Homo sapiens: one gene and its partners. The protein of the gene in region 1 purifies or fractionates together with the protein of each later gene. This does not show direct contact. Each region holds a gene or a part of one and is shown in the gene's direction. Other genes may lie near its edges. The genes, in order: RRP1, IKBIP, TSR1 and RIOX2.

What was found.
Region 2: the proteins of RRP1 (region 1) and IKBIP purify together in Homo sapiens (co-immunoprecipitation; one large-scale study listed by IntAct). This does not show direct contact.
Region 3: the proteins of RRP1 (region 1) and TSR1 purify together in Homo sapiens (co-immunoprecipitation; one large-scale study listed by IntAct). This does not show direct contact.
Region 4: the proteins of RRP1 (region 1) and RIOX2 purify together in Homo sapiens (affinity purification with mass spectrometry, with the first as the bait; one large-scale study listed by BioGRID). This does not show direct contact.

Annotation. Positions count from the first base shown.
Region 1 is NC_000021.9:43,790,253-43,797,844, forward strand, and holds part of RRP1 (ribosomal RNA processing protein 1 homolog A), read left to right. Parts: intron 1-1,097; coding exon 1,098-1,180; intron 1,181-2,419; coding exon 2,420-2,477; intron 2,478-3,066; coding exon 3,067-3,152; intron 3,153-4,936; coding exon 4,937-4,998; intron 4,999-7,169; coding exon 7,170-7,299; intron 7,300-7,378; coding exon 7,379-7,443; intron 7,444-7,592. UniProt on the Homo sapiens protein: Plays a critical role in the generation of 28S rRNA.
Region 2 is NC_000012.12:98,630,005-98,637,596, reverse strand, and holds part of IKBIP (inhibitor of nuclear factor kappa-B kinase-interacting protein), read left to right. Parts: intron 1-3,183; coding exon 3,184-3,301; intron 3,302-7,592. UniProt on the Homo sapiens protein: Target of p53/TP53 with pro-apoptotic function.
Region 3 is NC_000017.11:2,319,937-2,326,309, reverse strand, and holds the end of TSR1 (pre-rRNA-processing protein TSR1 homolog), read left to right. Parts: intron 1-889; coding exon 890-1,006; intron 1,007-1,045; exon of another isoform or gene 1,046-1,480; coding exon 1,481-1,621; exon of another isoform or gene 1,622-1,731; coding exon 1,732-1,806; exon of another isoform or gene 1,807-1,935; coding exon 1,936-2,114; 3' UTR 2,115-2,436; coding exon of another isoform or gene 2,437-2,655; 3' UTR 2,656-2,964; coding exon of another isoform or gene 2,965-3,174; 3' UTR 3,175-3,914; downstream 3,915-6,373. Other genes in the region: SRR (serine racemase), read right to left, coding at 2,437-2,655, 2,965-3,174, 4,694-4,768, 4,885-5,004. UniProt on the Homo sapiens protein: Required during maturation of the 40S ribosomal subunit in the nucleolus.
Region 4 is NC_000003.12:97,963,752-97,971,343, reverse strand, and holds part of RIOX2 (ribosomal oxygenase 2), read left to right. Parts: intron 1-3,711; 5' UTR 3,712-3,750; coding exon 3,751-4,182; intron 4,183-7,592. UniProt on the Homo sapiens protein: Oxygenase that can act as both a histone lysine demethylase and a ribosomal histidine hydroxylase. Is involved in the demethylation of trimethylated 'Lys-9' on histone H3 (H3K9me3), leading to an increase in ribosomal RNA expression.

The DNA of each region.
Region 1 (7,592 bases):
CTGGACATTTGTTAGAAATACACGTTCTATGCCGGGCGCAGTGGCCCAAGCCTGTAATCCCAGCTACTTGGCACGTCGATGTGGGAGGATCACAAAGGCCCAGGAGTCCAGCCTGGGCAACATAGCAAGACTCCATTTCCATCGCAAAAGAAAAGAAAGAAATGCAAGTTCTAGGATCCCAGCCCTACTAAATCAGGACTGGCATCTGCTTTATGAAGCTGTTCAAGTGCTTCTGCTCCCCACACTCAGCCTGAGAACCACTGCTGCAGGAACAGGTTGCCAGACACATAGGACTTCAGTGAATGTCAACTGAGTAATGTTTTAAATTAAAATTTTTTGTTATTTTTCTGAGTGAGACAGACCTCACTGTCATCCGTGGTGGAGGAGTGCATTGGCACGATTACAGCTCACTGCAGCCTCTACCTCCCAGGCTCAAGTGAGCCTCCCATCTCAGCCTCCCCAATAGCTGGGACTACTGGCACCGTGCGGCCAGGCCAGCTAAGTTTTGTATTTTTTGTACAAATTGGGGTCTTCCTATGTTGCCCAGACTGGTCTTGAACTCCTGGCCTCAAGTGATCCTGCCTCAGCACTCAATTCCAAAGTGCTGGGAGTACAGGCGTGAGCCACCGCACCTGGCCTCAGTAATTTCTGTTTCTCTCGTAGTCTGAATGCCTGAGTTCACTTTCTTCTTTTAGTATTTGAGATATATTACAGGAGAGTGCAGAAGCCCTCAGTATAATGCTGGATGAATTATCACCAACAGATTAACCTTGTGGCCACTGTCCAGCTTAGGAAACCGTCAAGGTTCGCAATTTTGAATTTCCAAAATGGAGTATGGTGCCTGATACCTTGTAGATCTCAGTCGGTTTTACTGTGTGCGTGAAGTAGCAGTTACCTGGAGTAGCCGCATAGCCACAGGCGCGGCAGGTTCTGGGTTAGAAGGATTGTTTGAAGGGGAGGGCCAGATTCTGCCCCCCAGTTGCCTTTACCGTAAGTGGGACTTTGGTCTCATTCAGGCAGTCACGTTTCTGTGGCTTCCTTTCTGGCACTCGAAGGTGTGGGATTCATTTGGTCCAACCGTTGCTGTTTTGATGCAGGTGGTTTTACGCACGACGAGCTGCTGAAGGTGTGGAAAGGACTGTTTTATTGCATGTGGATGCAGGACAAGCCACTCCTCCAGGTGAGTGGGGGGAGCAGCAGAGCAGGTACAGAAGCAGCGGGGGAGGATGGATGGGCATCTGGTCAACCCAGTTTTTCTTTTTTTTTTAAGTCGGAGTTTCGCTCTTGTTGCCCAGGCTGGAGTGCAGTGGCTCAATCTCGGCTTACTGCAACCTCAGCCTTCTGGTTTCAAGCAATTTTCCTGCCTCAGCCTCCCAAGTAGCTGGGAGTACAGGTACCTGCCACCATGCCTGGCTAATTTTTTGTATTTTTAGTAGAGACAGAGTTTCATCATGTTGGTCAGGCTGGTCTCGAACTCCTGAGCTCAAGTGATCCTCCCATCTCGGCCTCCCAAAGTGCTGGGATTACAGGCATGAGCCACCGCGCCCGGCCTGGTCAACCCAGTTTTAATATGGCCAGAGACCGTGGGGAGGTCGTATAGCCTTGACGCTTGGTTCGGCACGGCTGGTGGGCCTGGGCCTTTGTTAGGTGAGTCTTACACTTGCTGAGGTGTTGATGTGATTGACTGAGCCGTGCACTGCAGCAGCACTGGCATGGGTGAAAACTGGGTTTTGTGTTTGTCCTGGGTTGCAAACAAGTGCTGAAATAGTGGAAACCACGGGGCGGAATTCAAGTCTCCTGAGACAAGGACGTCTCCTGCTAGCCTTTTCCAAACATTGTTTCTCAAATTGTGAATTTTGTGCTCTCCTTCAAAATCTCCTGGGTGGTGAGGGTACTTAGTTAAGTTCAGGTTCCTGGGCCATATTCCATGCCCACTGAATTATCAAGGGGAGGCTGTGAAATGTCCCTTAGCAAGTATTCTGGGCGATGGCTGGCACGGTGATGTAGGCAGATAGCCAGTGATCTATGGGGTCTCGCAGCCCTCTTCCTCCTGATGGTTAGGGGGCTGTGAGTCCCAAGGCTCCCTTCCGCTCTCCCACGTCCCTCTTTAACCGTGACTCTGTGGCTTAGGGCACAGCCTCTGTCAAGAGGGCAGTGCCTGCTGTGGTTGTGTGAGAGGCTGTTGACCCCAGCTGTCTAGAGGGGCCTCCCGTGGTTGTGTGAGAGCCTGTTGACCCTGGCTGTAGAGGGGTCTTTTGGAGCAGGGGTGAAACCTCCAGTGCACTGAGCTGAGACCCCCTGGAAGCCGACTCTCTGTGATGAGTGAGTGAGTGAGTGGGTGAGTGGGTGGTTGCGTGTGTGTCATTGTGAGAGCCTGGTGCTTCAGGGGCTGAGGGCGTTTTTGTTGTTTCCTACACAGGAAGAATTAGGAAGGACTATTTCCCAGCTCGTTCATGCTTTTCAGACCACGGAGGCGCGTGAGTATGCTCTGCTGTAGTTGGGTGCATTTGTAGATGTCAGAACCTCTGAGCATCAGAGCCACCAGACCCAGGAGGTTTGTGTTCTCAAATCCAGAGTAAGGAATGCCTAAGGGCAAGAGAGCGCCAGCTGGTGTCTGTGGGTGCTTAGCATGTGTGCAGTGCTGGTGTAAGTATTCAACATGGATTAGCTCATTTACCCAAAACCCTCATTTCGAGCCTAATGGGCTAATATCTTACACTTTAAAAATAAAGTGAAAAGCCAGGATAATGTCACCAAGAGATTGGACTGAATTCCGCCTGATGGTCCTGAGGTTCCTGCAGTTGATTTTTCTGACTCCTCTGTTCTCTGGTGACCGGAGTTGAGAAGTTCTTACCCTGCCTGTCTGTAGGACTCACTTGAGGAGCCTCTAAAAATCCTCATGTCCAGATCCTGGTCCAGCAAGATCCAGTTCTGGGGGTAGGGCCTGGGCATCAGCATTTTTTATCTATAGCTATGTAAAGAACGGGTTCCTCCATGTTCTCACCTCCCTCCCCAGAGTGGCTTCGTGCTCCTCAGTGGTTCTCTTCTGGCTTATTCCTTCTCCAGAGCACCTGTTCCTTCAGGCCTTCTGGCAGACCATGAATCGCGAGTGGACGGGCATTGACAGGCTGCGCCTGGATAAATTCTACATGGTGAGGCAGCCACCAGGGTGCCGGCGGGCGGGGGCAGCGCGGGTCTCAGTGCCTGGCCAAGCGAGACAGGCGGCACCTGGGCAGGGAGGCAACCTGAGGCAGTGCGACCCTGAAGCCAGGGGTGGGAGGTGGAGCCGAGACTCTGGGCGGTCCCTGACCAGGGCTCTGCAGCTTTGTCCAGTCTCTGAGGGTCATTGAATGGGCAAGGAATTCGACCCTTAAAACACCACACAAACTTTTGGTTCAGAGAAGGAAAGTGACGATTGCTCTCCTGGTGAGAGTCGATGGTGACACCGTTGTTACCTTGTCAAAGAGGCAGAGTGAGTCTGGAGGCGCAGCAGAGGAGCTGCGGTCACGCCCTAGCATGAGCCCTGGAGTGCTTAGCCTGCGAGGCTGGGATGGATGGTCACAGTGTGGGACTTCCTTTCCCTCCTCCCTCATTGTATCCCCGTTCAGGGCACTGATTTGCCCTGAGAATACAGGGGAACACTGGGGTTTAGAGGTGCAGCGTGTTGCTGCCCGGACCTGCTTCTCTCCTTCCCTCCTTCCCTCTTGTTGAACCATGAGGTCTCGTTACTAAGGTGGTGGTCATTGTAACCTTAGAGCAGGCCTGAGATACAGGGACATTGTCACTGTGTAGGAGTCGGTCACCCAATGGGGACACTGAAAGGGGCCATGTCCGGGTCTCACTGAGGACAGATGTTGATCTGCCACTCTGGCTTCAGTGTCCAGCTCAGATTCGGGCCAGGATTGTGCAGACAGCATATATACCAGTGATTCTAGAAGTGGAGACCAGGGCGGGAAAGGCCTGGAGCTCAAGAAGGAAGGAGGCTCCAGGGCAGGCCAGGGGCCCGGCCATGCACTCAGACAGAGTGCAGACTCTTAGGGACAATGGGGCTCTGCAGGGAGGCCACCCTACTGTTTTGCTGAGATGTGGCTGCTGGGTCCCTGGATGGATGCGTTCTGCTGCTTTCCATGGCTCGTTTCTGGGTGCCCCTTGTGTGGCTGAGTCCAGCAGCACAGCCTTGCGTCAGGGCTAGCCTCGGTGGCACCGCAGGGTGTTGTGGGGGATAGGCCTCCTGTGTCTGCAAGAACAGTGTCCGGGCTGCTGGGCTGTGCTCTGTCATCGGGGCTCCTGGGGGTCCGCGTGTCCTCTGCTGCTACTGACTGCAGCTCAGACCCCACTCTGGGCGTGTGGGCATGCTGGGTCAGTAGCCTAAAGGGGGGACAACTGCAGAAGGGTGTTGAGCCCCATGGAGGGAAATGGCATTGTTGATTCACGGGTGAGGCTTGGCGGGAGGGCCTTCGCTGTGTAGTGGACCGCAGAGGAAGTGAGCTACATTCTGCCCGTTGCGGGGGGTTTGGTGAGGACCAGCCGTGTTTCAGACCTGGTTTTGCGGAGGGCTCCACCGCCCGTGGGGGTAGCCGTGCCTCTTTCCTGGTTCTCCCTTATGAATCGGACTGTTCCGTTTCAGCCCCGGTTTATGGACTGGAGTCGTAGGACTGTCCCCTATTACCCCCGACCCCCCATGCACCTGCTTCCTGCCAGCTGGGGCCTTGGAGCCGGGGATAGGGCATGTTCTCAGCCCAGGGTTCTGAGGGCTTGGTGGTGTGTCCTCCAGCGTCTGTCTGTCAGCAGCTCTGGGGGCCGGCTGTGTGCTGGGGCCGGCAGAGGTCACCACGGCCATGACTTTATCCTGCAGCGGATGGTGGTACATGGGGATGGGTGGTCTGGCGAAGTAGGGCTGGGCTTCTGCTAATGCCAACCTCCTTCTGTGTCAAAGCTCATGCGGATGGTCCTGAACGAGTCCTTGAAGGTTCTGAAGATGCAAGGCTGGGAAGAAAGGTGGGTGCGCGGCGGGCCTGCTCTGGGGGGACGCTGTTCTCGGGGACCGCAGTCGTGTTTGTCATTTGATTCTTTGCCATAAGGAGATGTCAGCCTTTATATTAACGCATGCCCCCAATCGTGCTTAGAGAGAAGATAGTTTTTAAAGTAAAAATCAGTTTGTGTGTTTGTGGAAATGATGCCATTTATCCTCAGGCTTGGAGGCCAGTTCTCACTGGGAGTCAGAAGGGAGTTTTTTAATGAAAGGGTGTCCAGCCGAGGAGCTTCTTATAAAAACACGGCATGTTCCGCTTCATTAGCAATGCTTTTTGTTTTTTTGAAATAGGTGTCACTGTTGCCTAGGCTGGAGTGCAGTGGCGTGATCTTGGCTCAACTACAGCCTTGACCTCCCGGGCTCAAGTGATCCTCCTGCCTCAGCCGCCCAACTGGCTGGGACTGCAGATGTGCACCACCAGGCCCACGTAATTTTTGTATCTTTTTTTGGTAGAGACGAGTTCTGTCCTGTTGCCCAGGCTTGTCTCAAACTCTTGGGCTCAAACAATCTGCCTGCCTAGGCCTCCCAAGTTGTAAGCAATGTTAATTGCTCCTAATTCTAAAAATATGTAAATTGGCTGGGCGCGGTGGCTCACATCTGTAATCCCAGCACTTTGGGAGGCCGAGGCGGGCAGATCACAAGGTCAAGAGATCGAGACCATCCTGGCCACCATGGTGAAACCGTGTCTCTACTAAAAGTACAAAAATTAGATAAATGCATAGAAAAGAATTAGCAGGCTGGTTATGGTGGGTTAAGGGGATCTCTTGAGCCCAGGAGTTTGAGGCTGCAGTGATCTGTGACTGAGCCACTGCACTCTAGCCTAGGTGATAGAGTGAGATTCTGGTTTTTTGTTTTTTTTTTTTAAAGAATCAGCAGGAATTGAACTGTGGCTGCTGAGTTTCTCTAGGTTTGAGTTGCATGGGTGATTTTGCATTTAGGGCAGCGGTGCCTCTGGTTTGGAGGGATTTTCATTCTTCTATTCCCTGGCAGGACTCTGATGCCAGGAGTCTCATTCATTCTGGGCCTTAGCATTGTGGATTACCCCATAGGGGTCTCATGGCTTAAGCTGAATTAAATGTTAAAGGGATGATTTTACTTGTGTTAACTTTTTTTGGCATATTATTACAAGAGTACTTTTCTCCCTGTAACTGAGAATTCAGCACAGGAATCATGTGGAAGACCTCGGTGCCTTCCCCCAATGCCTGCTGCGGTCCCAGTGCTGACAGTGGGGTCCGCTCTTCCCGCCCTCTTGGATCTCCTGCAGGCATAACCAGGCTGTCATTAATATCCACGCCATTGCCACTGGCCTGGGAAGTCGGTCCCTTGCATCTGTGTGTCTTCCTCTTGGTCTCAGCACCTGTTCTTGCCTCTGTCTCGTTTTTCCTGAGCCTTAGAGAGCATCACTTTTCCTTTCCATCACGAGTGATTCTCCAGCCTTGCTACGGAGCTTCCTAAGGATCACACAGTTTACAGATCTGAGTTAGGCAGCTGCGTTATTAAGCACCCCAGGAGGTCCAGATGCATGTAGGTGCTACACATTATTCTCTGGGGCTGTCTAGTCTTCAGATCCAGGGCCTGTGATGCCATCAAACCCGCCTGCCAGGGAGAGCTCTGGTGGACGTCACAGTTGGAATGCGTCGTGCGGCAGGGCCCAGGAAGCCAGCAGGTGGCTCATGGTCCTCGGCCCCTTTCTGGGCCTCCACCTTCCTTTCTCTGCCTGTGCTGTCCTGACGTGTCTTCCCCAGCGGTACCCAGTGGAGGCAGTGGAGAGGAACACCAGGCAGGGCGTCTCGTCTCAGCCAAGCCTTTCTCTCTGCTAGCAATCTTGAGGACAGAGGGAAGGCCTGTCTGAATGTTTACACGTGCTGCATTTTGTAGCTGACATGCACACTCAGGCCATACGTTCTGGTGGTGGTGCTGGTCACATAACTCCCTAACTGCAAGACTGCCTTGCGCTGGAGGAGACCTAGGATCGTTGATATCATCTGCGTGGACTTTAAGGCTGGCATGTTTGCAGACAGTGGCGCCTGCCCGCACTTAGGTTCCCATCAGAGCGTGTAACCATGGGAGAGTGGGGGGCACGGCTGTCTTGGGGCTCATCGAGGCTGCCTGTCATGTTTGCTTTTTCTTTCCTCAGACAGATCGAGGAGCTGCTAGAGCTGCTGATGACTGAGATCCTGCACCCCAGCAGCCAGGCCCCCAACGGTGTGAAGAGCCACTTCATCGAGATCTTCCTGGAGGAGCTGACCAAAGTGGGCGCCGAGGAGGTGAGGCTGGGCTCCGACGGGGCGGTGGAGCTGGGCGTTTGTGGAGGAGGAACTGAGCTCCCGCTGGCTTTCCCCGTAGCTTACGGCAGACCAGAACCTGAAGTTCATCGACCCCTTCTGCAGAATTGCTGCCCGGACCAAGGAGTAAGTGGTGGGTGGCCTGATCGGGCCCGACTCCTTCACTGAGTTCTTCCATGGGGCTGCTGTTGTGGGGGTGCTGCTCCCTCGAGGGATGAATCTGTCTCAGAGTGGCCGCTGGCCGTGTGGGTGGGGAGAGGTTGCAGGGGAGTCGG
Region 2 (7,592 bases), on another chromosome or scaffold:
TCTCTACTAAAAATACAAAAATTAGCTGGGTGTGTTGGCACACGCCTGTAGTCCCAGCTACTCGGGAGGCTGAGGCAAGAGAATCACTTGAACTCGGGAGGCAGAGGTTGCAGTAAGCCAAAATCGTGCCACTGCACTCCAGCCTGGTGACAGAGTGAGACTCCATCTCAAAAAAAACAAAAAGAAAGAAAAATCAATCATCTTCTTTAATGTTAAATGAATTAATATTTATCAAGTACTTAGAATAGTGTCTGGCACAAATAAGGGAAAAATAAAATATATTTTAACGCAGCACAGCACATATCACTTCATTTTTTTCATCACTAGTGCTGAGTCAGCTTTGTACTTTTTTCTTATATGCACCGTTCACATGTAGCAAGGATGAATTTTTTTTTATTTTAGTAAGAGGCTAATCAAAAAAAACTACTAATTATCAGAGATGATATTTCCACTAACATGACACAGGTTGTGTTTAAAGCTTGAATTTGAAAAGAAGTTCTGAGAAAGTTCATTAATGTATTTTTTGTAATGAATCAACCTTCATACGAAAGTCTCTTATAATAATGATTTCATTCTGAATAAACTCGCTAATCTATAGTATAGATCTATGGTGGAGTATTGGATAATAAAACTAGTCCCTGAAATGAACTGTGTTTCTTCTTTTACTTTTTTTTTTTCCCCCCTGGCAGGGAGGGACAGGAAGGCGTGAGGAGGGCAACTCTTATTTCTTTAGGGTGGTCTCTTTCTTAATAAGGTCTCTATCTGCTGGTCTTAGATATCCAATACTCTGGGGGAAAAAAAAAAAATCCTAAAAGCCAGAAATGAAACAGCCAATGAAAAAAGAATTATGTTCACCCTTCCATCTCAGAGAATTAGGATAATAGTGTTTTCTAATAACCAGAAGCTTTAAAGGTTCCTATTAATTTAAACACAGGAGAAAAGTCAATCTGTGCTAATAATGTAACCTGGGATCCCGTATAATAGAAATTAGCCAGCATCATCAAAAGAAATGTATTTCCTCCAGTATTGTAAACATTTGTCTAATTTAGCTTTGGACAGTTTTGTAGCTACGGTTAGCCTAATGATGCCATTTATGAATTCAAAGCATTACCACTTTTGCAAGGATGCACAAAGTTCAGATAACTGCATTTACTCAGAAAAGTCTTTCACCTCTCCATTAATCCTTGGGATCTTTAAATGATTGCCTTTCAGTGGAAATGAATTTCACAAAACATGGTCAGTCAGTATGGTTCTAAGTTTGGCTGTGCACTTAGATTACCTGAGAAGCTGTTGAGTTTCCAACATCCAAGCCACATCCCAAGCCAATTAAATCAGAATCTTTGTGAGACCCAGGCATCAGATTTGTTAAAGCTGCCAGGTTATTACAATATGTAGCAAAGCTTTTGAACCACTTGTCTCAGGACTGTGTTTAGGCAGGTACTTATGGTTCTGCTCCATTGCGTTTTGATGACTCAATATGCAAAGAATTTCAAGTGTTTTTTTCTGAGCCTAAAGAATTGAGTTAAAGTAGACAAAATGGTATTGGATCCAAGACAATTCTTTTATGCTTGCTCATTTCAAATCCTGTATAAACAGATGTTGATTTGTTGTTTTGAAGATTGAGATAGCTTTTTGGGCTTCCACCCATAATGAAGAATAAACTCCAATTTTAGAGTGACATCTCAAGTACACCTATACGAGTCACATCACTGAGTATAACCAATTGTGCAGTTTATACACTCTGCACTGATTGTGATCTATTGTCACTTTGGCAATGGCTTTTTTCTATTTTCATACCTCTTTTCACACCTCCTGCTATTTTGCAACTTCTAATTACTATCACTTCTCTCTTCTACTCCACTGCTTTTTATCAGTCAACTCTTCTACATTTCAGTTTTAAAATACTTTTTATAGACGACTCTTGTTTCGCCTACATTTCAGCATAAAAACACCTATTTTCTAGATATTACCCAATCATGGCCTTGTGAAAAACAGTAGAGATCAAAGATCTTGTTCTAAATTTTTCACTTTGTCCTCCTCTAAAATATTTCTTGTGCATGCATCTATTACAGATATCACACCATCTTATTTGGTGGGCTGTGAATTGTGAACAAGGGCAGTGCTTTACTCATCTTTGCATGAGTTAAACCAGTACCTACCACATGAAAATCTGTCAAAAGAAACTGATAAAAGCTGCATCTAGGCTGGACATGTTGACCCACACTTGTAATCCCAGCGCTTTGGGAGGCTGAGGGGAGGATCACTTGAGGCCAGGAATTCAAGACCACCTTGGGGCTGGGCACAGTGGCTCATGCCTGTAATCCTAGCACTTTGGGAGGCCAAGGCGGGCAGATCACTGGTCAGGAGTTCAAAACCAGCCTAGCCAACATGGTGAAACCCCATCTCTACTAAAAATATTAAAAAATTGGTGGGGCGTGGTGGCAGGTGCCTTTAATCCCAGCTACTTGGGAGGCTGAGGAGGAGAATCGCTTGAACCCAGGAGGCAAAGGTTGCAGTGAACCGAGATCGTGCCATTGCACTCCAGCCTGGGCAACAAGAGCAAAACTCCATCTAAAAAAAAAAAAAAATACCGGGCGTGGTGGCTCACGCCTGTAATCCCAGCACTTTGGGAGGCCAAGGCAGGTGGATCACAAGGTCAGGAGATCGAGAGCATCCTGGCTAACACAGTGAAACCCCGTCTTTACTAAAAATACAAAAAATTAGCCAGGCGTGGTGGCAGGCGCCTGTAGTCGTAGCTACTCGGGAGGCTGAGGCAGGAGAATAGCGTGAACCCAGGAGGCGGAGCTTGCAGTGAGCCTAGATCGCGCCACTGCACTCCAGCCTGGGCGACAGAGTGAGACTCCATCTCAAAAAAAAAAAAAAAAAGGCTAAAGACCACCTTTGGCAACATAGCGAGATGGACAGTCCTAGCTATTTGGGAGGTTGAAGTAAGAGGATCACTTGAGCCCAGGAGTTCAAGGCTGCAGTGAGCTATGATTGTGACACTGCATTCCAGCCTGGGTGACAGAGTGAGACCCTGTGTGAAAAAAAAAAAAAAAAAACCTACAGCTACCCATACCAGAATTTATGTTGTTCTTAACAGAAGTGGGTATAATTCTCCTTTGAAATTCGGATTTAAATGGATATGAATTGGAGAATAGTGATTTTTCTTTTCTTTTCCAGGTTTGTATTTCAGCAGTCAGAAAAATTTGCAAAGGTGGAAAACCAATACCAGTTACTGAAACTAGAAACCAATGAATTCCAACAACTTCAAAGTAAAATCAGTTTAATTTCAGAAAAGGTAATCATTAATTGGCTTATCTGGGACGGTTTTCCCATTTTACTACCCCACTATCATTTCTCTATCCCAGCTCAGAACTTCTTTCTTCCTGCCTTTTAGACCATCACTATTTTAACTCTCACTGATCTTCCTACCTCTTGACATTCTCCCTCTGAGCCATTTTGACTCAGATTGCATTTTGAGGGGCAAGGATTTTTTAATATGATAATTTCTAGTATTGAAAAAGACCAATTTGTTCATATTAGCATGATGTTAATTTTCTACTTAAGTGTCAGGTATCTAGAGCATTGAAAATATGGTTGATCATGTCTACAGCCATACCACCCTGAATGCGCTCGATCTCATCTGAAAATATGGTTGATCTTTGGACATAAAATTAGAATATGAATAGCACTTATTGGGAAAAGATCTATCCATTTTTTCCCTTACTTTTTGCTTTTTAAGGATATATGTACATGCATTTAAGAATGGCTAGCCTAGGCTGGGAGTAGTGGCTCATGCCTTTAATCCCAGCACTGTGGGAGGCTGAGCCAGGCAAATCACTTGAGGTCAGGAGTTAGGAGACCAGCCTGGCCAACATGGTGAAACCCCATCTCTAGTAAAAATACAAAAATTAGCTGGGCGTGGTGCACACGCCTGTAATCCCAGCTACTCGGGGGGCTGAGACAGAAGAATCTCTTGAACCTGGGAGGTGGAGGTTGCAGTGAGCCAAGATCACACCACTGCACTGTAGCCTGGGCTATAGAGCGAGGATCCGTCTCAAAAAAAAAAAAAAAAAAAAAAAAGAATTAAAAAAAAAAGAACGGCTAGCCTAAAAGTAACTATTTGTCCTGTAGCCAAATAAGAATTCCAATGAAAATTAAAATAATACCATGTCTATATTGTGTTCCTTCAAGTTGCTGATTTCTACCAGATGCGTTATTACTGTGATTCTTAGAAATGTGAGACAAATAAACATTTTTGTAACTCCCACACCTCTCAGGAGAAAGTCAAAGTCAGCTGTGATCAATAAGGCATCATGTAGGCCTATTCTGGGTACCAGGGACCAAGCTATCATTGGGAAATATGGCTTTTTGTTCATTTATTCATTCACTAAACCTTTGCTCATGTCACAAGGTAAGCAAGGACCTATGCTTGGCACCAGGGTGGGTAAGGATGTTGTAAAAATAGAGATGAAATGGAGCATCTAAGTCCCTGCAGCCCCATGCACAGGATGAGCATATAATCCTCCAGAAGAGAAAAGCCATGGAGGAAAATTAAGTATCCCTCACAAATGCCAGGGGATTCCATGGATGGTGAGTGTAAGGGATTTGGGGAAGGAGCTGCAAAGGAGTTGGTATTTTCACATAGGGCTCAAATTGGAATCTGAGCCAGGCGTAGTGGCTCATGCCTGTAATCCCAGCACTTTGGGAGGCCAAGGCAGGCGGATCACCTTGAGGTCAGGAGTTCGAGACCAGATTGGCCAACATGGCGAAACCCTGTCTCTACTAAAAATACAAAAATATTAGCTGAGCATGGTGGTTCATGCCTGTAATCCCAGCTACTTGGGAGGCTGATGTATGAGAATTGCTTGAACCTGGGAGGCAGAGGTTTCAGAAGTGAGCTGAGATCATACCACTGCACTCCAGCCTGGGCAACAGAGTGAGACTCTGTCCCAAAAAAAAAAAAAAAAAAATTGGAATCTGGTTGTAGCTGTTGGGGGAACTCTAACATACCATTAGAAGAAATCCCAGGGGCAAGAAACTTCATATATATATATATATATATATATATATATATATATTTTTTTTTTTTTTTTTTTTTTTTTTTTTTCAGATAGAGTCTCTCCCTGTCATCCCAGCTCTCACTCTGTCATCCAGGCTGGAGTGCAGTGTTGGAATAACAGCTCAACCTCCCAGGCTCAAGCACTCCTCCCAACTCAGCCTCCCAAGTAACTGGGACTAACAGGCACGCCACTGCACCCAGCTAATTTTTTTTTCTTTAATTTTTTGGAGAGACGGGGTCTTGCTACATTGCCCAGGCTGGTATCAAACTCCTGGCCTCAAATGACCTTTCTGCCTCTGCCTCCCAAAGAATTGATATTACAAGTGTGAGCCACTGTGCCTTGCCAAAACTTCACATATTTAATTAAAAGCTATTGAAGGCCGGACGCGGTGGCTCACGCCTGTAATCCCAGCACACTGGGAGGCCGAAGCAGGCAGATCACGAGGTCAGGAGTTTGAGATCAGCCTGGCCAACATGGTGAAACCCCATCTCTACTAAAAATACAAAAATTAGCTGGGCGTGGTGGCGGGCGCCTGTAATCCCAGCTACTCGGGAGGCTGAGGCAGGAGAATCACTTGAACCTGGGAGGTGGAGATTGCAGTGAGCTGAGATCACGCCATTGTGCTCCAGCCTGGGCAACAGAGTGAGACTCCATCTCAATAAATAAATAAATATAAATAAAAGCTATTGAAAACTTATTTTGAACAAGATTTCTCCTTTTTTTTTTTCTTTTTTTTTTTGTGGGGGAGGTCAGGGGTGGTACAGAGTTTCACTTTTCTCATCCAGGCTGGAGTACAATGGCTCGATCTTGTCTCACTGCAACCTCCGCCTCCCGGGTTCAAGTGATTCTCCTGCCTCAGCCTCCCGAGTAGCTGGGACTACAGGTGTGTACCACCACACCCGTCTAATTTTTGTATTTTTGGTAGAGACGGGGTTTCACCATGTTGGCCAGGCTGGGCACGGTGGTTCACACCTGTAATCCCAGCACTTTGAGGGGCCGAGGTGGGTGGATCACCTGAGGTCAGGAGTTCAAGACCAGCCTGGCCAACATGATGAAACCCCATCTCTACTAAAAACACAAAAATTAGCTGGGCATGGTAGCGTGTGTCTGTAGTCCCAGCTACTCAGGAGGCTGAGGCAGGAGAATCGCTTAAACCGGGGAGGCAGAGGTCACAGTGAGCCGAGATTGCACCACTGCACTCCAGCCTGGGCAACAAAGTGAGACTCCATCTCAAAAAAAAAGCTTTTGAAGCAGATTTTTAAAATATCATTATAGAATCCAAAAAATATTCAGTCTTGGCCAGGCGTGGTGGCTCACACCTGTAATCCCAGCACTTTGGGAGGCCAAGGCAGGTGGATCACCTGAGGTCAGAAGTTCAGGACCAGCCTGACCAACATGGAAAAACCCCATCTCTACTAAAAGTACAAAAAATTACCTGGGCATGATGGTGCATGCCTGTAATCCCAGCTACTCGGGAGGCTGAGGTAGGAGAATTACTTGAACCTGGGAGGTGGAGGTTGTGGTGAGCCGAGATCATGCCATTGCACTCCAGCCTGGGCAACAAGAGCGAAACTCCGTCTCAAAAAAAAAAATGAAAAGAAAAAAAAGAAATATTCAGTCTTTTCGTAGCTTTTTCTCCCATTCTGCCCTGGGAGTAATTTAATAAGAGGTCCCTTTTCACAAAGGTGGCCCTAAAGGGCAGCATAACCCAGATGGAGGGGAAAACAGCTAGACATGGACACCCATCCCAACTGTGTGACCTTAGACAAATCACTATAACTTATCTTCATCTCTATTTCATCATTTATTAAGTGAGAAATAATAAGATTTTTATAAAGATCAGATGAGATATACAGTAAGTCCTCAACGTCATCAATAGGTTCCTGGTCATCAATAGGTTCCTGGAAACTACGATTTTAAGTGAAGTGTATAATGAAACCAATTTTTTTCTCATCTACGTTGTAATGAAAGGACATCGAAACAACGTTGTTGGAGGAGCTGCTCTGAATAGTTCCACTTAAAGTCAGTTTCCAAGAACCTACCAATGACGTTAAGTGAGGACTTACTTTATATACAAATTCTTTGAAAACAATCAAGCACTAATAAAGTACTAGCTCTTTTTTTTTTTTTTTTTTTTTTTTTTTTTTTTTTTTTGCCCAGGCTCTTGTTGCCCAGGCTGGAGTGCAGTGGGGAGATCTGGTCACTGCAACCTCTGCCTCCTGGGTTCAAGCAATTCTCCTGCCTCAGCCTCCCAAGTAGCTGGGATTACAGGCATGTGCCAACATACCCGGCTAATTTTTTGTATTTTTAGTAGACATGGGGTTTCACTGTGTTAGCCAGGATGGTCTCAATCTCCCGACCTCAGGTGGTCCACCCGCCTCAGCCTCCCAAAGTGCTGGGATTACAGGTGTGAGCCACCGCACCTGGCCCTACTAGCTCTTTCTTTAAGAAAAAATGAGACCCGGTGTGGTGGCTTATGCCTGTAATCTCAGCACTTTGGGAAGCTAAGTTGGGAGCATCACTTGA
Region 3 (6,373 bases), on another chromosome or scaffold:
AGTGGCAGGAGGAATATGAAGAAAGCAGTATTAATGGTGTTTTGGATAATTTTTATTCTCACCAATTGTGAGAATCACAATCTCTAAGTGAGATTAATTTTTCTTTGCCTTAAAATATTTTATTTTCCTTTAAGTTTAGTATTTTAAAAAGGAGGTGAGGGCTACCTTGAAGGTAGAACATCAAATACAGTCTAGGCTCCAAGATTCTGACTCCAGATAAAAAAGTTACTGATCAGGCACCTGCAATTCCAGCTATTCGGGAGCCTGAGGCAGAAGAATCACTTGAACCTGGGAGGTGGAGGTTGCAGTGAGCAGAGATGGCACCATTGTACTCCAGCCTGGGCAACAAGAGCGAGACACCATCTCAAAATAAATAAATAAATAAAAAGTTACTGATACAGCCTGGCGCGGTGGCTCACGCCTGTAATCCCAGCACTTTGGGAGATTGAGGTGGGTGGATCACAAGGTGAGGAGTTCGAGACCAGCCTGGCCAACATGGTGAAACCCGGTCTCTACTAAAAATACAAAAATTAGCCGGGCGTGGTGGCATGTGCCTGTAATCCCAGCTACTCAGGAGGCTGAGGCAGGAGAACTGCTTGAACCCGGGAGGCAGAGGTTGCAGTCAGCTGAGATCACACCATTGCATTCCAGCCTGGGTGACAGGAACGATACTCAAACTCAAAAAAAAAGAAAAAAAAAAAGTTACTGATAGGACTAGATCGTATCTTTTAGGTGCATTGAGGCAGCGAAAATTTTTGAGAACTGGTGGTTTAGAGAAGTAGAAGCTGCCATAGGTTTAAGAGTTGCACTAATACAGCTTTTCACAGGCCTCTATCACCTCTGGTTTCTCAAAATGGTTTTGCTTTTCATTTTTTAACCCTTATGGCAGCGGACAAACATAAATTGCAGAGATTCCTGACTGCTGACATGGCCCTGGTGGCGACAGTCTATGCGCCAATCACTTTTCCTCCTGCATCTGTGCTGCTTTTCAAGCAAAAAAGCAATGGTAAGTTGAGCCACAGAGATGAACAGACCCTGCAGGTCCTTAATAGATGAACACCGTTTTCTCTTGTTTATTTAAATTTGGGAGCCAAATGGTATGGAGAAGGTAATGATGGTTTTCAAAATACAGTAAGTCTTCATTTAACATTGTTAATAGAACAATGAAAACTCCAACTTTTACGTGAAACAGTGTATAGCCAGTCCTCAAATAACTGCCTTTTGTTCAACATCCTTTCCTTGTAACAACTGATGAGAAAAAGTATGGTTTTGTTATACATCATTTCTCTTGAAGTACAAGTTTTCAAGAACCTATTGACAAGGTTAAGTGTGGGCTTACAGTTTACCAATCTTAGCCTCAGATTGGGCTAGGGCAGGGATGACAAACCAGGCTCTTGCATGGGTCTTTAAATGGACTGGGCAATAAATGAAGACTTTGGCCTGTAAATTCCTAAATAGCTTCTTTGCTTTTGTCCTTTAGGAATGCACAGCCTCATTGCTACAGGCCATCTTATGTCAGTAGATCCAGACAGAATGGTCATCAAGAGAGTTGTTCTGAGTGGTCATCCTTTCAAAATTTTTACTAAGATGGCAGTAGTACGTTACATGTTCTTCAACAGAGGTGGGTATGAAGGAGGAGGATGGGATCTGATTGCCTTTGTGGTATAAAGGTTGGGTTTACATTTTGTGGGTAAATGTTTCATCTTGGTCTTTAATGTGTTTGATTCTAAGAGGATGTGCTGTGGTTTAAACCAGTGGAACTGAGAACGAAGTGGGGCCGGAGAGGACATATCAAGGAACCTTTAGGTAAGGAAACACGGGATTTGAGACCATGTCTGCATTTCTGCAGTGTTGCTAAATGACTGTTGGGTTGGAAGTCATTGCTTTAAAATTTTCTACTTTTAATTTGACCGACTTGTTCTGATGTCTTTCTAGGTACCCATGGCCACATGAAATGCAGCTTTGATGGGAAGCTAAAATCTCAAGACACAGTACTGATGAACCTGTATAAACGAGTCTTCCCCAAATGGACTTATGATCCATATGTACCAGAACCAGTACCCTGGCTGAAAAGTGAGATTTCTTCAACAGTGCCTCAAGGGGGCATGGAGTAATGGATTCAAAGAGATTCTGTCTTACCGGTGCCAGTCAGTACTCCAGGGATGGGAGGCACAAGTTGTGATTGGGCAAAGTTTATTTTCTATGTCAGCCTGTCAGTCCACTGCCCCATTTTGCAAGACTTTTTTTTAGCCTTGACAAAATGTCTCAGTTAAGTATAAAAGTTTTTCCACTACTTAGTCCAAAAAAAACTATTAAATCTTAATGAAATAGCCACTCTCCATTAAGAATCTGATAACTAAGAGTTGACAATACTAGGAAACAAAATGTCTTCAGTATCTAAAGACACTGAATTCCCACCATTTCCTTTTCTGTAAATTAAACAGAAACAGACTGATAAGAAGCTGGCCTTTCAGCCTGCTTCACCCAAGTTATGGAGGAGGTTAAGTCTACATTTCCACCACTGAGCACAATACAAATGTTCTTTACTTCTGGGGAAACAGTTTGAAAATGTTGAGACAGCACAGCAGCCACTCCAACACCAGCTGTAGGTTCAATGAGTAGTTTCATCCTCTCCCACACCAGCTGGGTTGCACACTGTTGATATGGAAGGGAGTAGGAATTAGTGAAAGGGGAGTCTAGTTGGTTTACCTATAAAGTTCAGATGAGAATACGTGTCCAGTTTGAATTTTCTTATCACTGTGTACACACGCTTCCCAAAGCTTTTCTTTAATTCTGACTCTGCTTCTGTCAAGAGGGTTGTCATTAATACATCTAGGGTACCCTCCCATGTCATGAAGTTACCTAGTCAGGTTCCCGTGGGTCACTTGCTACTCCTAAGGGAAGTTTCTTCTGCCTAAGAAGTTACACCATGCTTTGCTATTTCTTTTCTTGCTGGAGCCTCACCTTAATTTCATCCTCTGTGACAGTGAAGATATCATCCACAAGGTCCCTGATAATAGGCCAGGTGTTCAAGCCAATGCTGGATTTGACACCATCTGCTATGGTTTCTGGAGGATAAAGATTGGGCATCAGTTTCCCCTTCAGCTTGGACTGGTAGCAGTCATCTGCATTTGAGGGTTCAGCAGCATATACCTTCACACTAGGTTTCAGAGCCTGGGAAGAGGAATATTAAGACATCTTAACAACAAACCACAACATTGCCTGCATGTCTAAAAGAAAATATGGGCCTGGTGTGGTGGCTCACACCTGTAATCCCAACACTTTGGGAGCCCGAGGCGGGTGGATCAGCTGAGGTCAGGAGTTCAAGACCAGCCTGGCCAACCTGGTGAAATGCAGTGTCAACTAAAAATAGGAAAATCAGCCAGGCGTGGTGGCAGACCCCTGTAATCCCAGCTACTCAAGAGGCTGAGGTAGGAGAATCACTTGAACTTGGGAGGGGTAGGTTGCAGTGAGCTGAGATCACACCAAAATGGGGTGGGGCGCAGTGGCTCACGCCTGTAATCCCAGCACTTTGGGAGGCCGAGGTGGGCGGATCACGAGGTAGGGAGATCAAGACCATCCTGGCTAACACGGTGAAACCCCGTCTCTACTAAAAATACAAAAAAAAAAAACAAAAAAAAACTAGCCAGGCATGGTGGCAGGCACCTGTAGTCCCAGCTACTCGGGAGGCAGAGGCAGGAGAATGGCGTGAACCTGGGAGGTGGAGCTTGCAGTGAGCCAAGATCGTGCCACTGCACTCCAGCCTGGGTGACAGAGTGAGACTCCGTCTCAAAAAAAAAAAGAAAATAGGCACAATAAGTAATACATTTCTGCCCAAGTAAGAGCCTTCCCTTTTGTGGATGTAATGAAAATATCTTCAAGCACTTTATAAATAAATTATATGTCTGATACTAGCCTTCCATTGCCTGGATCACATCTGATTGTCCTGGTAATTTGAGAAAAGGGTAGCCCCTTGGTATGGATAGTAGCTTGATGACATGGAATTCAGGGAAAAGACTATGATGGTGTCACTTGTAACTGCTTTTGTGCTGTAAAATTGTCATGGATTAAGAAGAGAGTTGGCTGGGTGCGGTGGCTCACACCTGTAATCCTAGCACTTTGGGAGGCCAAAGTAAGGACTGCTTGAGCCCAGGAGTTCCAGACCAACCTGGCCAACACAGCAAGACCCCATCTCTTAAAAAAAATAAAAATATTAGAAATAATAAATAGGCCGGGCGCAGTGGCTCACGCCTGTAATCCCAACACTTTGGGAGGCCAAGGCGGGTGGATCGCAAGGTCAGGAGTTCAAGACCAGCCTGACCAACATGGTGAAACCCTGTCTCTACTAAAAAAAATACAAAAAAATTAGCGGGGTGTGGTGGCTCATGCCTGTAATCCCAGCTACTCAGGAGGCTGAGACAGGAGAATCGCTTGAACCCGGGAGGTGGAGGCTGCAGTGGGCCAGGATCGTGCCACTGCACTCCAGCCTGGGCAACAGCGAGAATCTGTCTCAAAAAATAATAATAATAGTAAATAGAGTAGTGAGGCAGAGATGGGCCTTCATCTCAAGTCCCAAAGGAATAAGGGGAAGGAATGGTAATGTGTGCAGAATGTTGAGCACGTGTATACAGAACATTTAGGATGTAAAGTAAATCCTCTGCTTGAAGCAGGGAATCCTCCAGAAGCTGCTCACCTTAACTGTAATTGCTATTCCAGCAAGCATTCCTCCTCCACCTACAGGTACCACCAGTGCATCCACCAAAGGAACCTTTAGTGAAAATATAAACTGTAAGCAGTTTTATATTTAATGTATACATATAAAATAATTGAATATAGCCCAACAGCTTTACCAGTAGCTAAACAGGAAGAACTCAGCTATTTTACCTGGTTCAGCACTTCCAGGGCAATTGTCCCTTGTCCAGCTATCACTGCAGGCTCCTGGTTGGGATGTACCATGATGCCTTCTGTTTCTTCTGTAACTCTTTTTGCAACATTTTCTCTGGACTGAAAGTACATTAATTTAGCTTAATTGATTTGTATTTAATAGAGTCCCCAACAAGTTCCATTTGGTCATTCAGCATTTTATTGACCATCTACTTTTTTCACACTTTGTTCAGGTACTAGAGATATATATGTTAATAAAATATCCCTGCCCTCAAGCACGTTATATTGTATGGTAGAGATGGATGAAGTAAATATATGGTATGTCTAAGTGCAATGGAGTAAAATGAAGGAATTTATTTCATATAGGGTAGCCAAGAAGAGCCTCTAGTAAAGTGACATTTTAAAAGATCTGAACAAGTGCTGTGGATGTCTAGAATATTCCAGAGAGGGGGTAACAGTGCAAAGACTACAAAGTAGGAGTGCTTGGCCTTTCTGAGGAACAGCTAAAAAGGTTAGTATGGCTGGCACAGAGTGGGCAAGAGAAATAATAGAAGATGAGGTCAAGGCTGGGTGCAGTGGCTGACACCTATAATCCCAGCACTCTGGGAGGCCAAGGTGGGCAGATCACTTCAGGTCAGGAGTTCAAGACCAGCCTTGCCAACACGGCAAAACCCCGTCTCTACTAAAAATACAAAAATTAGCCAGATGTGGTGGCACGCGCCTGTAATCCCAGCTACTCTGGTGGCTGAGGCATGAGAATCTCTTGAACCCAGGAAGCGGAGGCTGCAGGGAGCTGAGAAGAAACTACCGCACTCCAGCCTGGGTTGGACAGAGTGAGACCCTGTCTCAAAATAAATAAAAAGAAGATGAGGGACCAGGCACGGTGGCTCACACTTGTAATCCCAGCACTTTGGGAGGCCAAGGCGGGCAGATCACGAGGTCAGGAGTTCGAGACCAGCCTGGCCAATATGGTGAAACCCTGTCTGTACTAAAGAATCAAAAATTAGCTGGGCATGGTGGCACGCGCCTGTAGTCCCAGCTACTCGGGAGGCTGAGGCAGAAGAATCGCTTGAACCCAGGAGGCGGAGGTTGCAGTGAGCCGAGATTGTGCCGCTGCACTCCAGCCTGGGAGACGGGGAGATTCTGTCTAAAAAAAAAAAAAAAAAAAAAAAAAGATGAGAGATGAGGTCAGAAAGATAGGAATGTTTGAGTTTATCCAGGGATTAGATGATTGCAAGAACTCTCGTTTCCACCGTGTATGAGATGGGAAACCAACAGAGGATTTAGACTTGAAAAGAGACAAGTTCTGGCCAGGCGTGGTGGCTCACGCCTGTAATCCCAGCACTTTGGGAGGCCGAGGTGGGTGGATCACGAGGTCAGGAGATCGAGACCATCCTGGCTAACACAGTGAAACCCCGTCTCTACTAAAAATAGAAAAAATTAGCTGGGCATGGTGGCAGGCGCCTGTAGTCCCAGCTACTCGGGAGGC
Region 4 (7,592 bases), on another chromosome or scaffold:
ATTACGTTAATGCAGATTATGGGCCTCAGCCATCAGAAGTGGCAATCCAGTGGGCTTGATGAGGGCCCAGAAATTTGCATGCTAACAACCTTGCTGGTAACTCTGAACTACATTCTGTAAAACTGCCCAGGGGATGTAGAAATTCATACTTCCCTCCCCGATTTAGTAATAACTACTGATGTCTAAAGTGCCTTTTAGCTTTTACGATACTCTTGAATCCTGAAGTGACAGCTGCAATCAGAAAAATAATCCCCTCTGCACAGGCCATCTGTTTTTTCCGTAACTGTTTTGTGTAAGGCCTTTGTGGTTTGTCTCCAAAATTGTATACAGACAAAAGATGAAAATGTGAAAAATTCAGCAGACATTTCTTGAGGACCTCCTATGTACCACACCGTGCTTGTTTCCGGGGATATACAAATCCTTTCCTTCAAGAGCTTCCTCACGTCTTCATGTCCTCAAATATTATAGAAAAGGAGGTTAGGGTACCTTTAAAATATAGTGACTGTCTGTCTGTTGCCTATAGTATGGTTGTCAACATTGATTTTCTTATAGGGTTTATCTGTGGGGTAGTCACCAAAGTATGAACTGTAAATCTTTTAGTCTTTTTACATTTAATGCTTATAGTCAACTCAAATGGAAAACAATTGCTCTTCAAAAACTTTTCTGTGATTTTACAGAAATATTTACTCCTATTGGGGTGGTCTCTAAGGCTTATGGGCAAGGTTGTGTTGGCTGTACTATTCTAGACAAAGCATTGTCTTCTTTAATTACTATAGTATTGGATTCTAAGATATGTGTTTTACTTCTTGCTGTTTCCGAAATTATGATATGTACCTTAAGACTTTTGTATGTTTAATGTGGTAGGATGCTTCATCTATTCTCCCCTCTGCTCTAGAAAGCTGTTAAGAGGAATGGTTGTCTTACAGTATGAGTAGTGTGAGAATCAGAGAAATAATGTATTTGCCCAGAAACCTCTAAGCTTAGGCTCCAATTAACTGAGCCTCAAATCATTTCAACATGAACACAGAGAAACAAATGATGTAACTTTTGGCAGTATGGGTAGTGAAATTTATATTCTAAGGAAAGCATTTGTTATACAGTATTGGGGTTTGTTAGTGATTGTAGATGGGAAAGATTCTTTTAAGTGATTTTATTTTGGCTTAAGTGTTTTGCATTCTTTGATTAGCCACACTTTCTGGTGAATGTGCTTATACTGTATTCATATATTATGCTTAAAGAAAAGCTTTTCGTTTGCATCTTCCTCCTGCTCTCTCCCCTTAAATGAATTTTAAACTGACCAATTGTGAGAGATAAGAGATGTGTGGCTGAATATAAAATGACTCTATAGGGTGCCTTTAGTAATACAAACCTAATAAACCAATCTAAGTTTTTAAAAATTAAACGTGAGCAATGTGCTGTGGTCCCCAAGGCCATCTTTAGTTCAGCAATTTGCTAGGAGGACTCGGCTGATTTATTACAGGGAAAAGATATCAAGCACAGTCAGCAAAGGGAAGAGGCACATGGGTGAAGTTCTGGGGATACCAAGTGCAAGGCTCCAAGGGTCTTCGAGCGGTCACACTGGCTGTGCTCAGTTGCTCCAGCAACTAGTTGTGTCAACACTTGTGAAATGTTGCCAACCTGCGAAGCTTGTTAGAGACTCAGTGCCCAGGGCTTTTACTGGGGGCTTTTCACTTAGGCCACCCCTGCCTGGCACATACCAACGTTTCCAGACTCCCAGAGGAAAGCAGGTGTTGGTATAAACTGTAATGATTGTACATTTTAGGCATGGTGAGCCACTCCTATCAGTTAATGGTGGTGGAAACTCTCCCAAAATCTTAAGTTCTCAGACATCGGCCACAAGCTGCACTTTCAAAGGATAGCAGTCAGGCCTGCTATGGAACGTCTTCTGCATAAGCAGTACCCCTTCCCGAATCCATTTTTCTATCTCTTTGTATTTCTCCATCACTTGAGAGTTCCATGTACTAGCAATGCTGTGCCTTCCTGAAGCCTTAATTCTTTCCTGGAGAATTCAAGCTGGTCTGTTTCACTTAAAGGAAACATTTTCAGAAAATGTGTCTTACTGACCACATATCCTAAACACTAAAGTTTATTTTTTTTTTCTAAGCTTCAAGCTTTACCCCTCTCCTGTAGTATCAGTTTGTGTTAGTCTTCCACCATGTCCTGTGTTTCCTTATCAAAAGCACCTGGTCTTTTGAAGGAATGGAGCTGTTTAGAGGGTTTTATATTTTGACATTTCCTTTCTTAATTTGTTCAGTTTACATCTGGGTTTCAATCTAAAGTTTCTTTTATAAGTTGCAACACGTCACACAGTATGCAACACATCGTTCCAGGATGCTTACTTCCCAGGCCAGAACATTAATTCCACTTAGTCTACAGTGTAGCTGAAATACTGCTTAGTTATAATGACAAAAGAACAGAAAACAGTATTCTTGCAATTCTGATAACTCACCAAAGTAGGAAACTATACCATTTATAAATAACAAGTCTTTCAGAAATTTTGGTTTTTATAAGTACAGTGGTTCTTAACCTTGTCAGGAGATAGGGACTTCCTTAAGAATCTGTTGAAAGTGATGGAGTCCCTTCCCAGAGGGAAAGGACTTTAAGATAGAATTTTGCAGTCTCAGGAAATTTAAATAATTTGAATTACAGTTCTTGGAAACAGATGAGGGAAACCTACCCTCTAAGTATCAATAGTTGTGGTTTGGAGGCAGTTCTGAAGGAGCTTTGCAAGGCTTGGCTGTGTGGCTTCGACTACTCAGCAGTGTCAGCAGCAGAAGCATCACCTGGGAGCCTGTTAGAAATGCAGAACCTCAGGCTTCACCTTGGAGCTAGTGGATCATATCCTGCATTTTATTGAGATGCTAAGGTGATCTGTGTGCACATTAAAGTTGGAGAAGTGCTGTGTTAGGGGCTAATGATATTGGTATTATTTAAAATCTTCAGTTAAAAAGTTATAGTTTTTTCAAGGCTTTAGATATAACTACTTTTAGCCTTCACTTTTCAGCCTTTAGGGGCTTTATTTCTTTAAACGAAGGGGAGTTTCTGATAAAAGTGGCCGTTTTCAGGAATAAGCTCAGAGTTGGAAGTGAGCAGGTTCAGGTGGTTAGTGGAGACAGGAGAAGGCAGTGGCCTGCTCCAGCCACCAGGAGACACCGCGGGTCCAGGGCGCATTGATTGACCTGCGCAACAGTTGGGGTGGTGCTGCGGTGAGGAGCACCTGGCAGTGGGCGGCTGTTAGTTTTTCTCTAGTCAAATGTTTGTAACTCAGAGTACATCTAATTAGATGTGGGCCCTGATGCTGATGGGAGCCAAATCCAAGATATTTGACTTTGCTGTGTCAGTGGCCACAGGCTAAACCTGTGAGTAGGAACTGCTGAGACAGTTGAATAGGTTTATTTGGGATAATTATACTGCCTAATAAATAATACCATGACATAGTGCTTGTGTAAAAGAAAAACACGTTCTTCTTTAGATGAATATGTCATCTGAGTGGTGGTTGAGCTTGAATCATATCTTAGAAGAAATGGCATTGGCTTAAGGCTGTCTCCTATCCTGGGGGAAGTAGCTTTGACCTATGAAGAGTTCTCACGAAGGTGTAATGGTCATTCAGTTGTGTGTGCGCGCGATCCACTAACACCAATGCTGGCACTCCTTGTAAACCTAACCATGTGTGTTTTGTTCTTTTGGTAGGTTTGCATTTCCTTACTGCTTTGTCTTGAAGACAGAACGATGCCAAAGAAAGCAAAGCCTACAGGGAGTGGGAAGGAAGAGGGGCCGGCTCCCTGTAAGCAGATGAAGTTAGAAGCAGCTGGGGGGCCTTCAGCTTTAAACTTTGACAGTCCCAGTAGTCTCTTTGAAAGTTTAATCTCGCCCATCAAGACAGAGACTTTTTTCAAGGAATTCTGGGAGCAGAAGCCCCTTCTCATTCAGAGAGATGACCCTGCACTGGCCACATACTATGGGTCCCTGTTCAAGCTAACAGATCTGAAGAGTCTGTGCAGCCGGGGGATGTACTATGGAAGAGATGTGAATGTCTGCCGGTGTGTCAATGGGAAGAAGAAGGTTTTAAATAAAGATGGCAAAGCACACTTTCTTCAGCTGAGAAAAGATTTTGATCAGAAAAGGGCAACGATTCAGTTTCACCAACCTCAGAGATTTAAGGTAACCAGTTTCCCCATTGCAGAATCCTCATACATTTTAAAGTACTAACATTTGGCCACATATCAGCTCAAGGGTGAATACGTAGTTTGATGATGGTTAGTCTCTTGCCAGTTTGAGAAGGGGTAGCACCTCTTTGGTCTAAATGCATTCTAACTAGGATTAAGATTATGTGTTATGTTTGGTTGGACTGTTAGAAACTCCAGCAACTCAGGGTAGACATTGTTGGGTATCATTGAGCTGCAAAACTAATTATACTGCAAGTTTATAAAGTTGTTAAAGTGGCACTACAACTGCAGGAGTATGTTCTGTGAGCCAGTTTATGTTTTTCTATATGATAGACATTTCTATTTGGTTTGTCACATCACTGTAATTTAAGGCATGACAGCATCAAGGTGATCATTTTTTCCCGAAGTTGCTTCCCTTTACTGCCTGCATCTAAATGGAGGCTTCAGAGCCATGACCAGATCACATGCTAGATGCAAGTCCAATAAAGAGACTTCACCCTTAATAACACCCGAATGGGTGACATTGAGGTACCTGGAACTGCTCCTGGTAAGGCTTCATAGGTGGAGGAAATCTTTGCTTTGCAAATGCAGAGGATTGGCAAATTTTTAAATTTTTTTCTATATCAGGGATTGACATTTGGGAAATAATTTGCCTCCTCTATGCTTGGTTTCTACATTTATAAAATGCAGATTTAGTATGAACTAATTTGTTTTCCTCAAGGTTTGAGATCTGTATCTCATCTCATGACAGATGGCCCAGAATAGGTGAGGGGCTGTTCTGAATTTTAGATAAACTTTTATCCCCATTCAGAAACCCCCTTCTGTGACCCTTCATTAAATCAAAATGGCAACATAGGAGGAGAAAGAGAGGGGTTTGTGAGGTTCCATGTTGAGAGGAATGGATTCTGGCTTTATTGATGGCTTCTGGGGCTCTGTCGTCAGTTACCAATAGTGTTTCCAGTGATTTAACTTGAGGTGGCTTGTTATATCCCATTGGGCTTCATCTGGTGAATGCCCTTCCCTTTCTTTCTTGTCTAAAAGATCTTGAACCTATTCATACTCTGTATGAGGTATGAGTGCTCTTAGATTTTTCAAGATGAGTCCTGATTCCAGCTATTCCATCTCAAGCAATCATACAAAGTTGAAATGTCCCTGAAATGCTAACCTTGTGGCCTAGGCACTCAAAAAGAATTTACAAATCATTTGTCAGACCAAGTTATGATTTGAATTCAGAAAATATGGACACCGTCAATAAAATGCTTCTCGCTGAGCTAGTCCTTGACTAGAAGTAGCACTTTTAAGAGTGGTTTTTAGAAACCTGAGAACTCTAAACATAAATGAATTCAGTGAATTTGATTACGTGTACTTTGGTCATAGACCAGCAGAGAGATGATATTTGGCATATGTGTGGTATCCACTGTGGCTGTCATTTCTCTACTTTAGAATCATCCCCCGCAGGGCTTTTCTCTGCTCATCCACTTAAGTGCTGCACATTCCTCGTCTGGGATTCCAGTGTCCAAGAACCTGTTTCTTTTGCCTTGTTGACTAGGCTCTGGCTGAGTTTATTAAAGCAGGAAGGATGAGCTTTCTCAGCCCAAATTCAGCCCTCAGGCCAGACTAGGATGTGCCTTTTTTTTTTTTTTTTGAGACAGAGTCTTGCTCTGTTGCCCAGGCTGGAGTACAGTGGCACGATCTCGGCTCACTGCAACCTCTGCCTCCTGGGTTCAAGTGATCCTTCTGCCTCAGTCCCCCTAGTAGCTGGGATTACAGGCACATACCACCATGCCTGGCTAATTTTTGTGTTTTTAGTAGAGACAGGGTTTCGCCATGTTGGCCAGGCTGGTCTCGAACTTCTGCCCTCAGGTGATCCACCCGCCTCAGCTTCCCAAAGTGCTGGGATTACAGGCGTGAGCCACTGTGCTGGGCCTTTTTTTTTTTTTTTTTTTAATCTCTTTGTACCACCCGTGCTGGAGAGACCTATAAGCCATAGGAGCTCACCGTCTTACACTAGAGTCTGGATTCTAAGTGCTATATTATAAGGTGGTTTGGCATTGTGTGTGTTTCTTTAGTAATGGGCATATTAACGTCAGAACAGAGGAAGTCTAGAAGGAGTTTATCCCTGGCCAGGTTGAGAGACTGTTAGAGTGAACATGCAGCCCTTTGTTTATTGGGTCTCAGACTGTGCACAGCTTATTAGTATAGTTAGTTTAAAAACGAGTAAGGAGGTAACCAGGGAGCCATAATAAGTTGTTTGGACTTGCTTTCAGTAATCCATATATTAAAAGTCCTGGTGAGAGGAATTATCACAATTATTTGCATTTTGCTTAGCAGGCTAGAGTTTACCAAGTAATTTCATATATTTTAACTTTTGAGCTTTCTAACAGGCATTTGAAATAGGGCAGCTTTTGTTCCATTTTCTTTTTTTTCTTTCCTTCTTTTTTTTTTTTTTTTTTTTTTTTTAAGACAGAGTCTTGCCCTGTCACCCAGGCTGGAGTGCAGTGACGCAATCTCGGCTCACTACAACCTCCGCCTCCTGGGTTCAAGCAATTCTCCTGCCTTGGACCTCCTGAGTAGCTGGGATTACAGGTGCATGCCACTATGCCCGGCTAATTTTTGTATTTTTTTTTTTAGTAGAGATGGGGGTTTCACCATGTTGGCCAGGCTGGCCTTGAACTCCTGATCTTGTGATCCACCTGCCTCGGCCTCCCAAAATGCTGGGATTACAGGCATGAGCCACCGCACCCAGCCGTGGACTCCATTTTGTATGTGGAAAAACTGGAGTTCACAGATGTGACCTTTCCATAACTATTCCAAGCTGATAAGGGTTTCTGACTCCAAATTTAAGGCATTTTCCTACCATACTTTGAAAGATGTATTGAAATTTAGTAGGGCTTTTTATATGTTTGCTTTTGCCTTTCTTTAGGCATATACGTGGTCTTCTATTTTAGCCATGGCGTTGAGTTTTGATTCTGACGGGTAGGTCAGTGGAGAGAGGAGGTCACAGCCAGCCGGGAGAGAGACTTCCACCTTCTCCCTTTCACTGTTCTAGGTCCTCCTTGGGCTCGCTGGATATCGAATCCTGTGGTAAAGGAGAAGACAGGTTTCAGGAGCCTTGTTTGTGCTTGAGTCAATGTTAGTAAAGCAATATCGCTTGTATACTGCTTTGCAATTTAAATAGGATTTGTGATAAGTTGTTTTATGCTGTTCGCCACAGTGTTTGAGTGGGAGTGATAATATCTTTATCTTAAAGATAAACAACTGAAGTCACCTTGCTTGTAATTATAACTTGAACCGAGGTGGTTTGACTCCAGATCTCTTCTAGTAGGCCACGGTTGGCAGATTCAGAGGCTAAAGGTCCAGATGAAATAGAAAAATTGTGCCATTGATAGCATTTTCAGTAACCTT